Homo sapiens: one gene and its partners. The protein of the gene in region 1 interacts with the protein of each later gene in a biochemical or structural test. Each region holds a gene or a part of one and is shown in the gene's direction. Other genes may lie near its edges.

Region 1 (3,729 bases):
CTATGTAAGGTGTCCCTACAGGCAGGATCTCACACACATTTCAGGTCCTTCACAGTGCTGCAGAAAATGAGGCCACAGGCTCCAAGTTTACTGCAAGCTGCGGGGTTTGCTGACACCTACACTTCTCAGCGTGTGGCATCTCGCACCAGCCAGGGGCCTCCCATTTCCAGTGGCAGGTTTTCGTGATATCCAGTTATGACCGGTGACTCCTCCAAGAGGTGCCTGTGGTCAGCAGAGGAGGGACCTTGTTCCACTGAGGCAGGAAGATGAGAGAGACACTGGGTTCTCTGATGGGTTCACCAGCAGACCCTGTGAAATTCATAATGGCCCCTAAGGTAGGGGTTGCCTGACATGTTCAACTTGGATTTAACCCTTAAGGCATAAGAAGCCGCTGAAAATGTTCAGACGTTACAAAACTAGGGCCGGGCACGGTGGCTCACGGCTGTAATCCCAGCACTTCGGGAGGCTGAGGCGGTTGGATCACCTGAGGTCAGCAGTTCAAGACCAGCCTGACCAACATGGTGAAACCCCGTCTCTACTAAAAATACAAAAAAAAAAAAAATAGCCAGGCGTGGTGGTGCGTGCCTGTAATCCCAGCTACTCGGGAGGCTGAGGCAGGAGAATCACTTGAACCTGGGATACAGAGGTTGCAGTGAGCCGAGATTGCGCCGCTGCGCTCCAGCCACAGAGCGAGAAACTGTCTCAAAAAAAAAAAAAGAAAGAAAAGAAAAAACCGGCGAGGACTGAGGTAAACCACAAAATTGTCCAGGCTTTTTATGTGGAGGGAATTTGCAGACTCACGTGCAGAGAACCCAACAAACCCAGACTTTGGGGCAGCTGAGGCAGCTAGAATGTGTGGGGTGTGGTACCAGAAAGGAAGGAGTTACGCCCAAAACAAAGAGCTCCAGCAATCTGCGCGTGAGCCCGCTTGCATCTTGGGTTGGATCCGATTTGCTGGTGCACACAGTGAAACCTCGTGGAGCTGGACCAAGAGCAACTTGAAGGGGAAGAGTAAGTGTAAGGGGACAGATGAGCAGGACTCACACAGGGCCGTGGTTATTTCAGTTCCCACCAGCCAGAGTATAGAAGCCACTTTAAATACAAGGAGCTTTCATGACACCTTAGAGGAAACACAGCTTGGAAGTGGCGCAGAATAAGCTGCAGAGGAAAGGCCACTCCAATGCCGTGGAAACAAGTGCAAGGCAAGCCCTGGAAACACCACTGCCTGCTAGCACGGAGTACACACAGCACTCTTGAGAGAAGGAAGCCAGGCGAAGTGGCTCACACCTGTAATCCCAGCACTTTGGGAGGCCGAAGCAGGCGGATTATCTGAGGTCAGGAGTTCAAGACCAGCCTGGCCAATATGGTGAAACGCCGTCTCTACTACAAAAAATTAGCCATGTGTGGTGATGGGCGCCTGTGGTCCCAGCTACTTGGGAGGCTGAGGCAAGAGAACCACATGAGCCCGGGAGGCAGAGGTTGCAGTGAGCCGAGATCGCATCACTGCACTTCAGCCTGGGCAACAGAGCAAGACTCCTTCTAAAAAAAAAAAAAAAAATTCACGTCCAGAATCTAATCAGTCATGGGCAGACAAGCCAAAGCAGAAAAATGGACTTGTCACTGGAGGGGGTCCAGTAGCAGGCCCAGTTTTGATAGGATTAGCCAACAAAGACAGTAAACAATTATAAAAATGTTCCCTGTGCTCAAAGAAATAACACAAAAATGTGACTGAGGGCTGGGCGTGGTGGCTCACACCTGTAATCCCAGCACTCTGGGAGGCCGAGGCGGGTGGATCACGAGGTCAGGAGATCAAGACCATCCTGGCTAACATGGTGAAACCCCGTCTCTACTAAAAATACAAAAAATTAGCCGGGCGTGGTGGCGGGCACCTGTAGTCCCAGCTCCTCCAGAGGCTGAGGCAGGAGAATTGCTTGGACCCGGGAGGTGGAGCTTGCAGTGAGCCAAGATCGTGCCACTGCACTCCAGCCTGGGTGACAGAGCGAGACCCCGTCTCAAAAAATAAGAAAACATGACTGAGAAATGGAAGATACAGAAAAGAAGCAAGTTGGACAAAATGTCACTGGAACTAATCTCCCAAGTAGAAGAATTCCACATTGTTTACTGAGATAGTTCCCCTTCGAGGAGGTGATGCTTAACTCCTCACTCCAGAAGCCTGGGCTTTACCTAGTGACCCTCTTCCAAAGAGCAGAGCACAGAAGCAGGAGGAGCAGCTTTCCAGTGGAGACCTCCAGCAACACAGCCTCACCAGGGACCATGCTCACCATCAGCAGTGACATGCGTATCACTGTTGTGTACTCTTTTTTTTTTTTTTTTTTTTTTTGAGACGGAGTCTCGCTCTGTTGCCAGGCTGGAGTGCAGTGGCACAATCTCGGCTCACTGCAACCTCCACCTCCCAGGTCCAAGCAATTCTCCTGCCTCAGCCTCCCACGAAGCTGGGACTACAGGCACCCGCCACCTCGCCCGGCTAATTTTGTTGTATTTTTAGTAGAGATGGGGTTTCACCGTGTTAGCCAGGATGGTCTCAATCTCCTGACCTCGTGATCCGCCCACCTTGGCCTCCCAAAGTGTTGGGCGCGTCAGCCACCGCGCCCGGCCTGTTGTGTACTCTTGATAGGATGATGAGAACAGCACTCTACCTCTTTGATCTTCCTCCCAAAAACATACGTAACCCCAGCTAATGATGAAAAAACATCAAACAAATCCAAATTGAGAGACATTCCACAAACTGTTTGACGAGTCCTCAAAATTGTCAAGGTTCTCAAAAACTAGGCAAGTCTGAAAGGTGCCAGAGTCAGTGGGACTGAAGAAGATGTGACAACTGGATGGATTTTGGATGATGTCCTGGAGCAGAGGAAGGATTGGGTAAAAAGCTAAGGAATCTGATTAGAATGTGGGTCCTAGTTAACAATGTGTCTAATGTTCTTGAGACAACTGTACCACACAAAGGCAGGATGTTAATGATGGGGGACACTGGTGTAGGGCATGTATTCTAAAGTAAAAAGGTGGTTCTTCAGAGTCACCGGAGCGGTTTAACAAAACATTAGAAACTTCAGAAGAAAAGATTCCTGAACTAAAAGCAATGGAAACTGTCCACAGTGATGTACAGGGAGAAAAAGGACTGCAAAAACTTAGCCGAGCTTCAAGGACATAATATCATGTGGTCTAACGTATTTGAGGTTCCAGAAAACAGTGGGGAAGAGAATACAGAAATATGACCAAAAGGCTGGACACGGTGGCTCCTGCCCGAAATCCCAGCACTCTGGGAGGCTGACATGGGTGGATCGCTTGAGCCCAGGAGTTCAAGACCAGCCTGGGCAACATAGCAAGACCCTGTCTCTATAAATAATACAAAAATTAGCCGGGCGTGGTAGTGCCTGCCTGTGGTCCCAACTACTCGGGAGGCTGAGGCGGGAGGATCACCTGAGTGCAGGAGGTGGAGGCTGCAGTGAGCCATGATCGTACCACTGCACTCCAGCCTGGGCAACAGAGCCCTGTCTCAAAAAAAAAATTATGGCCAAAATTTTTCCCAAATTTTTGAAAAGCTGTAAGCTCACAAATCCAAGAATATCAGTCTTAAGCAGGATAAAACCAAAACCATATCAAGGTACATTATATAATCAAAGTGCTGGAACAGGCTGGTGAAGAGAAAATCTTAAAAGCTCCAGAAGAGGCCGGGCGCGGTGGCTCACGCCTGTAATCCCAGCACTT
Region 2 (3,729 bases), on another chromosome or scaffold:
TCCCTTTACTACACCATCTTGTGTTGGGGGCTGGGGAGAGGGATGGGAGAGGAACATATTCAGTATTTATTTGCTGGCCTTAAGGAGCCCAAGGTGTATTTCTCCTCTTGTTTCAAGATAAGGCTTGGTTTTCAGCTGGTGATGAGGGTAATCGTCTGATATTAGGGAAGATTGAATTGCGTTAATCTCTTAGCCATGTGTGGGGAGGCCAGATGGACCTGCTACTTTGTAGCCACAGCCACACTTGACCTCTTTGAGGTTCCTTTTCTCCACCAGCCTGGCTGCAGCGTGGTGAGGAAAAGCATGTGGTTTGAAGTTGCAGCCCTGAGTTCAAGTCCTAGTTTCTTCCCTTACAATGTAACCCTGGCCCTGCTCCCCTTACTGCAGATTCTGCCAAGAGCCTTACCCTCTCTAAGCTTCATTCAGTCCTGTATCGTGGGCATGGTAATAGTACTGAATGCAGAGTTGCTGAGGATTAAATGCACGTTAAGTACATAGTACAGTTCCCAGCACACAGTGATCATATATGTGATAGCCCTTTTTGCAGTTATTTTTATCAAATGGCAATCAGAGAAGCCTTCCAGGACAACTTTATCTAAAATAGCACTCCCTCCTCTGCTTTATTTTTATACAAAATTTTATATAGCATTCCCTTAGTCTGCTTTATCCTTCCTCATAGTATTTATCACCAGCTGACATATATATTCCTGTCAGCCCCACTAAAATGTCAGTTCAGTGGCCGGGTGTGGTAGCTCACGACCGTAATCCCAGCACTTTGGGAGGCCGAGGCAGATGGATCACCTGAGAGGTCAGAAGTTCGAGACCAGCCTGGCCAACATGGTAAAACCCCATCTCTACTAAAAAAAAAATACAAAAAAATTAGCCAGGCATGGTGGCGCACACCTGTAATCCCAGTTACTCGGGAGGCTGAGGCAGGAGAATCACTTGAACCTTGGAGGTGGAGGCTGCAGTGAGCCAAGATTGCACCACTGCACTCCAGCTTGGGCGACAAAGCCAGACTCTGTTTCAAACAACAACAACAACTACAACAAACAGTTCGGTGAAAGCTAAGATTTTGGCTGTTTTGTTCATTTTTGTATCCCCAGTGCCTGTAAGCATGTTTTGCACATAATGGGGGCTCAAACGTTTGTTGCAGAAGTGCCTCTTACAACACGTGCCACTTACAACACAGTGCAGTGCTTGCTTAGAGAAAGTATTCAATAAACCCCAGGCTTCTTAGGCTTCATTTTGCCCCTCTTTTATTTATGCACAATTAAGAATATATTTTTTCTGGGATGTTTTTAGAATCAGACCTTGTCTGGGGTAAACAGTTCTGGAAGCCTCCAGCTGAGCGATGCCCTTGAAGTAAAGTTAGGATCATCCAAGAGAAAATGTGGGCCTCTGTGTCTAAGCTTGGTTATATTCCAGGAGAACCTTCTGACTTGGAACTCTTGGCTTCTCACAAAGGATAAATATCAGTGGAAGTGGATGGGACAAGGAGGGGGCAGGCCCCGGCCTGACCTCTTTCCTTTTGCATTGCTCCTTTTGGTTGACCCACTTCGTAAATCAAACAGCTTCTTTTTACCATCCAGCTCGAAGTTTGACTGCAGTGTCCTTGAAACTGTGGAGCTATGCTTAGCGTCGCTGGATTGAAATCATAGCATGGAGCACATTCAAGGAGGACTTGTTGCTCGGTGGTAGCTGCTGACAGAGATGTTCTTTTTCAAATGATTTTGTGTTGTTGTGTCTGTTCTTTGGATAAGTGTCTTCGCCTTCCTCCTCTCTTCATGCGGCTGTGGAGCCAGCACCACTCGGAAAGCTGGCAGTTCTGGGCATGTATTTCTAGGCTGCTGAGCAACGTGGGACTGCCTCTGTGTTCTGATGTGCTAGCTGTCCAAATGTTGATGACAGATGCCTTAGGCAGGAGAATGGGAAGAGTGACCTCCTGCTGCAGAAGTAAGGACATTCAATAGTGACTTTTTTCCCCTGGAAAATTGCAAAAGGGGAATGGGGCTGTTTGGAGAGCTCGAGGCATTTAGATGAAGTGAAATGCTGCCTTGGCAAAATGACGGAAGGAAGATTACTGAGAACTTGGCTGAAACTAGGTGATCAGTCATTCCCCAAACAGAGGGAGAGACATCCCCACCCTTTATGCTATGGGATAGGACAGTTTGCCATAGTCCTTAGGGATATACACAGCAGGGAGGTTTTGACAGTTAAGATAACAGTAAGGTCAGCAAGAGAGCCAGCTGGCCCACCCCCTCACTCTTGCCCCAGGAGCTCAATTAAAACTCTGCTGGGTAGAATCCTGACTTCACATCTGGCCTCCATTCCTTTCCGCATTGAACTGTGTGCCTAAGACAGGGTAGCACACACAACTTGCACATGTAAACCATCTTTGTTTGTCATTTAGGGGACATGATGGCAGGAAGTGTGCAGCCGCTCTTGATAAGCTTGTATTCTGGTGTAGGTCTGTAGATAAGGCATGCAGTAACCTCTCAACCCAGAAACATAAAGCAATTCTGGACTGGAGAACATCTCCAGAAGCCGGTGAGAGTCTGCCTGTCTAATATTTCTGTCTCCAGACAAAGTTGAATCAGAGAAAGTTATCAATAATCCCCTGTCCTCCACCAGTCAGTCGCCAAGCATTGGCAGTCTATGTATTGAGAATCAGGTTCCAGATTCTATGGAAAGGATGTAATATAGTACTCAGTCCTCTACTAAGCTATTTAACCAGATCTCTGGGGACATCCACCCAAGCAAAGCAATGCCTTTCCAAGCCTAGACTCTTTTTTTTTTTTTTGAGACGCAGTCTCGCACTGTCGCCCAGGCTGGAGTGCAGTGGCGCGATCTTGGCTCACTGCAAGCTCCACCTCCCAGGTTCACGCCATTCTCCTGCTTCAGCCTCCCGAGTAGCTGGGACTATAGGCGCCCGCCACAATGCCTGGCTAATTTTTTGTATTTTTAGTAGAGACGGGGTTTCACCGTGTTAGCCAGGATGGTCTTGATCTCCTGACCTTGTAATCTGCCCGCCTCAGCCTCCCAAAGTGCTGGGATTACAGGCGCGAGCCACCGTGCCCGGCCTAGACTCTTTTTCTTAACTGTTACTGTTTTCCTCAATATCCTGCAACCTTCAAGGTTGGGACATTTTTGTTAAACCTGATTTCCATGAATTACACTCATTTTCTGTGGTCAGTGGGCAGTCATCTTGAAACCTGGTCTTCAGCCCCACTCCCTTCGACACCTACTTTTTACTACTATCTGTCTCAGTCTTCTCTTTCCTGGATTGAAGACAGAACAAAAGTGATCAGGTTAATAAGTCAACTCTCAAAGCATTTCTTGAATTCACACAGAGTATAGTAAGATACAAAAACGTGACTTGGTAGAAGACTTGGATCCTGTCCACAGCTCACGGCCATTTGCTCTCTCCAGTTCTTTTGCCATTCTCCTCCGAACCAACCAGTCCTTGACTTGAGACTGGGCTTCTCTTATCTATAGGAAGCTCTTCTAGGGGGTAATGGAAAAAGGGTTTTGAGGCTCTTTGTTCTTACTAAGGGCGGGAATAGTAAAGGGAGGAGAGAAAAGAGGGATGGAATTGTAGTGACCCAAGAGAGCCCCTGGAGATTTTGTCCAGTGGCTAGACAGCCTGAGGTTGTACGTGCTACGTGTGGGTAGGATTTTGTGTTCTGTTTGAGGAAAGATCTAGAACTAGGCACAGAGGACACAGTG
Region 3 (3,600 bases), on another chromosome or scaffold:
AGAAGAGTCAGTTAATTTCACATGAGAGCTCTTTCATCTTAATAGAAGTCTCTTTTTTTTTTTTTTTAAATCATGGTTGGCTCAGACTCAGAAAGACTGAGTCTGAGCAAATGCAATTTTACATGTGTATGGTAGTAAATACATTAAAGGGGCAGGGTGCATGCTGTCAGTGTGGTATTTGGAATGAGAAGAACTGAGATGTTTTTGAATGGCTTGAGCAGGTGAGGGTCATTTCTTTAAAAAGAAGGACATACACACACTCCTGATTGAAGTGGCAGACTTTCTCAGAGACATAGGGTTACCCAGCACATAAGCTACTTACTGCAAGTATGCAACTCTTAAAATATTACATCCACACCTTTACATATGCCCTTGGTTCATCTTCAGTTTGCATGTCAAAAAGAGGGTATCTTTAATCTGATAAATTGATCTCAGGAAGAGGGTCAACCTTTATAATGGTATTGGTGAGATTTTTGTCAGGGCCATATTCTAGTTTGTTAATCAATAATGTTTCTCTCTCTCTCTCTCTCTGTGTGTGTGTGTATATGTGTGTGGTGTGTGTGTCTCCCTTCCTACTTTACCTGTGGCCAAGAGGACCTCCTTCAGTTTCCCTTAGTGTTAATTTCACATATGTAATTAGTAAAACGGTCCCCAAAACTAGTTAATTAAACAATTTCTAAAAAGTTTCAATCTCGGCAGATTCATACCGTTTTGTTATGTAGGATGAAGCACATAAAGTATCTTGAGACATTCTTCATGTTGTAGAGACTTGAGGGTTAATGATGAGGCAAGCCTGTCAACAACCAGAGGTATCTCATGTCCTGGATTTCCTGGAGTGTTTACCGTGTGTTACTTTGAATGAATGACCTGAGTGAGGATGCTAAGATTTTCCTTCTTAATGTTACTCCTTTCAAAATCATAATGTTATAGACATTCCTTTATGGTAATATTATTTTAATAACATTCAGGTACATAGCTGGACAAAAGTTTGATATGACTAGGTAAGTGATCTAGCTATAAATGAAACACACCAGTGTCAAAAGCTGTTTGGAAGTGATCTTGTACTCATTTTCACAACCAACAGTTGTGATACACTTTTTTAAGACCTCCATTTATGCAGAAGTGATACACTTTTAAAAAGCATTTTTTATTTCAGAACATTTATCTGAGAGAGCCTAATCGAGAAGAATATTGCATTAGTAAATTGCTCTGCCTAAGACAACTGCTGCTCTGTTTCTCTTCACATTTTAAAACCTAAGTCCCAAATCTCAGTCTGTAGTTAAGAGCTTCAAACAATAATTACCTCTGTGAAATGAGCAGAAGTCCTTAAAAGGGCCTGCCGGTTTTCCCGCAATCTTTTACAGGGTGAGCAGCGCTGTATCCACTGATAACCCAGCTGCTTAGGAACTGAGTAAAGCCGGCTCCAAACTTCTCAGCTGTTGACAGGCTTGACTTGCTGAGAACACTGGTTAAATATAGCACCCGCGAGCTCAGCTCCTCAACATAGCCATTGCTCTGACAGTGTTGTGAAGGGAGCAGAAGAGGAGAAACCTAATCTCCGAACCCAACAACACCTAGCAACAGTAGAAAAAACTTTTAAACAAAAGTCTGGGTGGGAGATATACAACAACTTCCAATTTCTGCTGATCGGGATTTCAGGGAGAAGAAGCTGCTTTCCCTCCTCTCTACTCTGTTTCCTGCATGACTTCAGCTATTGGCTGGTCCTGGGAAAGAAAGTGGGAAAAGCTTTTTCCTCTGTATTCTTTTGGGCTGGATAGTTTTTGAGAACTCGAATCTGTCTTGGGCTGTGAGACAAGCCACTGGGTTCTTCAAAGGATAAACTACCTACATAGAGGACATACCTTTGGTTAAAGGAGCTGCCGTCAGGTAAGACCAAAATAAATAAATACTTACTCTCTTAAGAAATATCTGTTTCCACAAGAAGAGAGTTCTCTCCCATTCTGTTTTGTCTGTTTCCTTTGATTCTTCCTGTTCTATGATGTGATAACACATTTAGAAGTTACGATAACCATTGTGAATTATTTTTAAAAAGTCAGAAACATCATCTCTTCCTCAAAATTATACCAATTCCTTTTTAAACACATAATTTTATGGTGTTTTAGTAGACATCAAAATATTTCTCCCAAGTTAGTGCTCTTCGGCAGGTAACAGAACTATGACAAAGGACAATTTCACATCTCCTTTCACAATTGGGATGGCTAAGCAATGAAAAGGATATCTCCCCTAGAAGTAAAATAACTTTCATTTACTGAAACTAGCTAAGCAGCTTGTGTTTGGTAAATGAGAGGAAAGTCCCGCATGGTGTTTGTATTGCTGTACTTTTTAAACCTGCTGTTGCATGTGTCTCCTTTTGCCTAATTCTCTGATTACACTGGTACACCTTGTGCTGGTTCTGACCTCGTTACACTAGAGTCACCCCAAATGCTTCTGACTGGGCATAAAATATGCCTGGTATTAAATCACTACTCTTGAAGTTGTTGAATATAACTACTCAAGATAATGATATTTGTGTACTTTTAAAAAATAAATCAATACTTGTATTTAGATATAACAGATTCTATTTTTAAAAACTTAATTAGAAAACATTTTCTGTTAAGTTGCATGTGTGTGTGTATGAATGTGTTTACTATAGTGTAAAGGAAATCCTCCTTTCAGCTGATGGCATCTTGTCTCCCCTTCCATGAGTTGCCATGCAATTTTATCAGAATTGCTTATAGTAACCAATTTCATGTTGAATATGACAACTTATGGTTGTACATTGTTGATATAGTTAGTATTGACATCTGGTGGTTTGTAATTGGGGTAGATTTCCATAAAAATATTTTACCTCTAAATGAATATGATGATTTGAATAATTTTTTAGTCTAAGGATAATATCAAAGAAGATATAGAAGCACATTTTAATTGGAATTTTTAAAGTCTATTCTATCAATGTAAAGAAAGAATTTACCCAAAACCAGTTTTTAACATATTATTTGTTGACAAATAAGAATGTATCAACCTTTTCAGAAAATGATCTTCTTTTAAGAAAAGCTAATTAAAGCTTATATAGCATATGCTCAGGAAAATGAAATAGGGCACTCATTTCAGTATGTGTTATGTTTTATAATTCTGTTTACTTGTTTATACAGTACATAAGCGAATCACATATACAAATATGTATAAATAATAGTGCAAAATGCACTCTGGTAAGTTTACTATTAGAGACTGAAACTCCTGGTGCTTTAGTAGAGATGAAATATCTTTGTCTTGAAGGAGTTTGAAAAGTCAGAACTAAATGCTTTACATTTTTCTTGTTTTTATCCTAAGAAGGGTCACATTGTTGACTTAAAAATGTATGTGTAAGGCCAAAATCTACCATTGATTCTAGGCATGTAATTTCTTTTGGAGTCAGTGGGACAGTGTGGCGATAACTAAGTGCAGCATTTGGCCCTGTGTAAAAGTCATGTTTGCTGATGAAGTGAATTTTTCAGTATCATTAATTGTCTTCATTGTTGTACATTTATTCTTGAGAATCAACAGCAATTCAGCTCAGGCTAAACAACACGGTTTCCTCCACTATATGAACAATCAGGCTCT

The links.
Region 2: the proteins of HSF1 (region 1) and MINK1 form a complex in vitro, tested with the Homo sapiens proteins (one study listed by IntAct).
Region 3: the proteins of HSF1 (region 1) and FILIP1 form a complex in vitro, tested with the Homo sapiens proteins (one study listed by BioGRID).

Annotation. Positions count from the first base shown.
Region 1 is NC_000008.11:144,297,895-144,301,623, forward strand, and holds part of HSF1 (heat shock factor protein 1), read left to right. Parts: intron 1-3,729. UniProt on the Homo sapiens protein: Functions as a stress-inducible and DNA-binding transcription factor that plays a central role in the transcriptional activation of the heat shock response (HSR), leading to the expression of a large class of molecular chaperones, heat shock proteins (HSPs), that protect cells from cellular insult damage.
Region 2 is NC_000017.11:4,836,159-4,839,887, forward strand, and holds part of MINK1 (misshapen-like kinase 1), read left to right. Parts: intron 1-3,729. UniProt on the Homo sapiens protein: Serine/threonine kinase which acts as a negative regulator of Ras-related Rap2-mediated signal transduction to control neuronal structure and AMPA receptor trafficking.
Region 3 is NC_000006.12:75,491,701-75,495,300, reverse strand, and holds the start of FILIP1 (filamin-A-interacting protein 1), read left to right. Parts: upstream 1-1,500; 5' UTR 1,501-1,887; intron 1,888-3,600. UniProt on the Homo sapiens protein: By acting through a filamin-A/F-actin axis, it controls the start of neocortical cell migration from the ventricular zone. May be able to induce the degradation of filamin-A.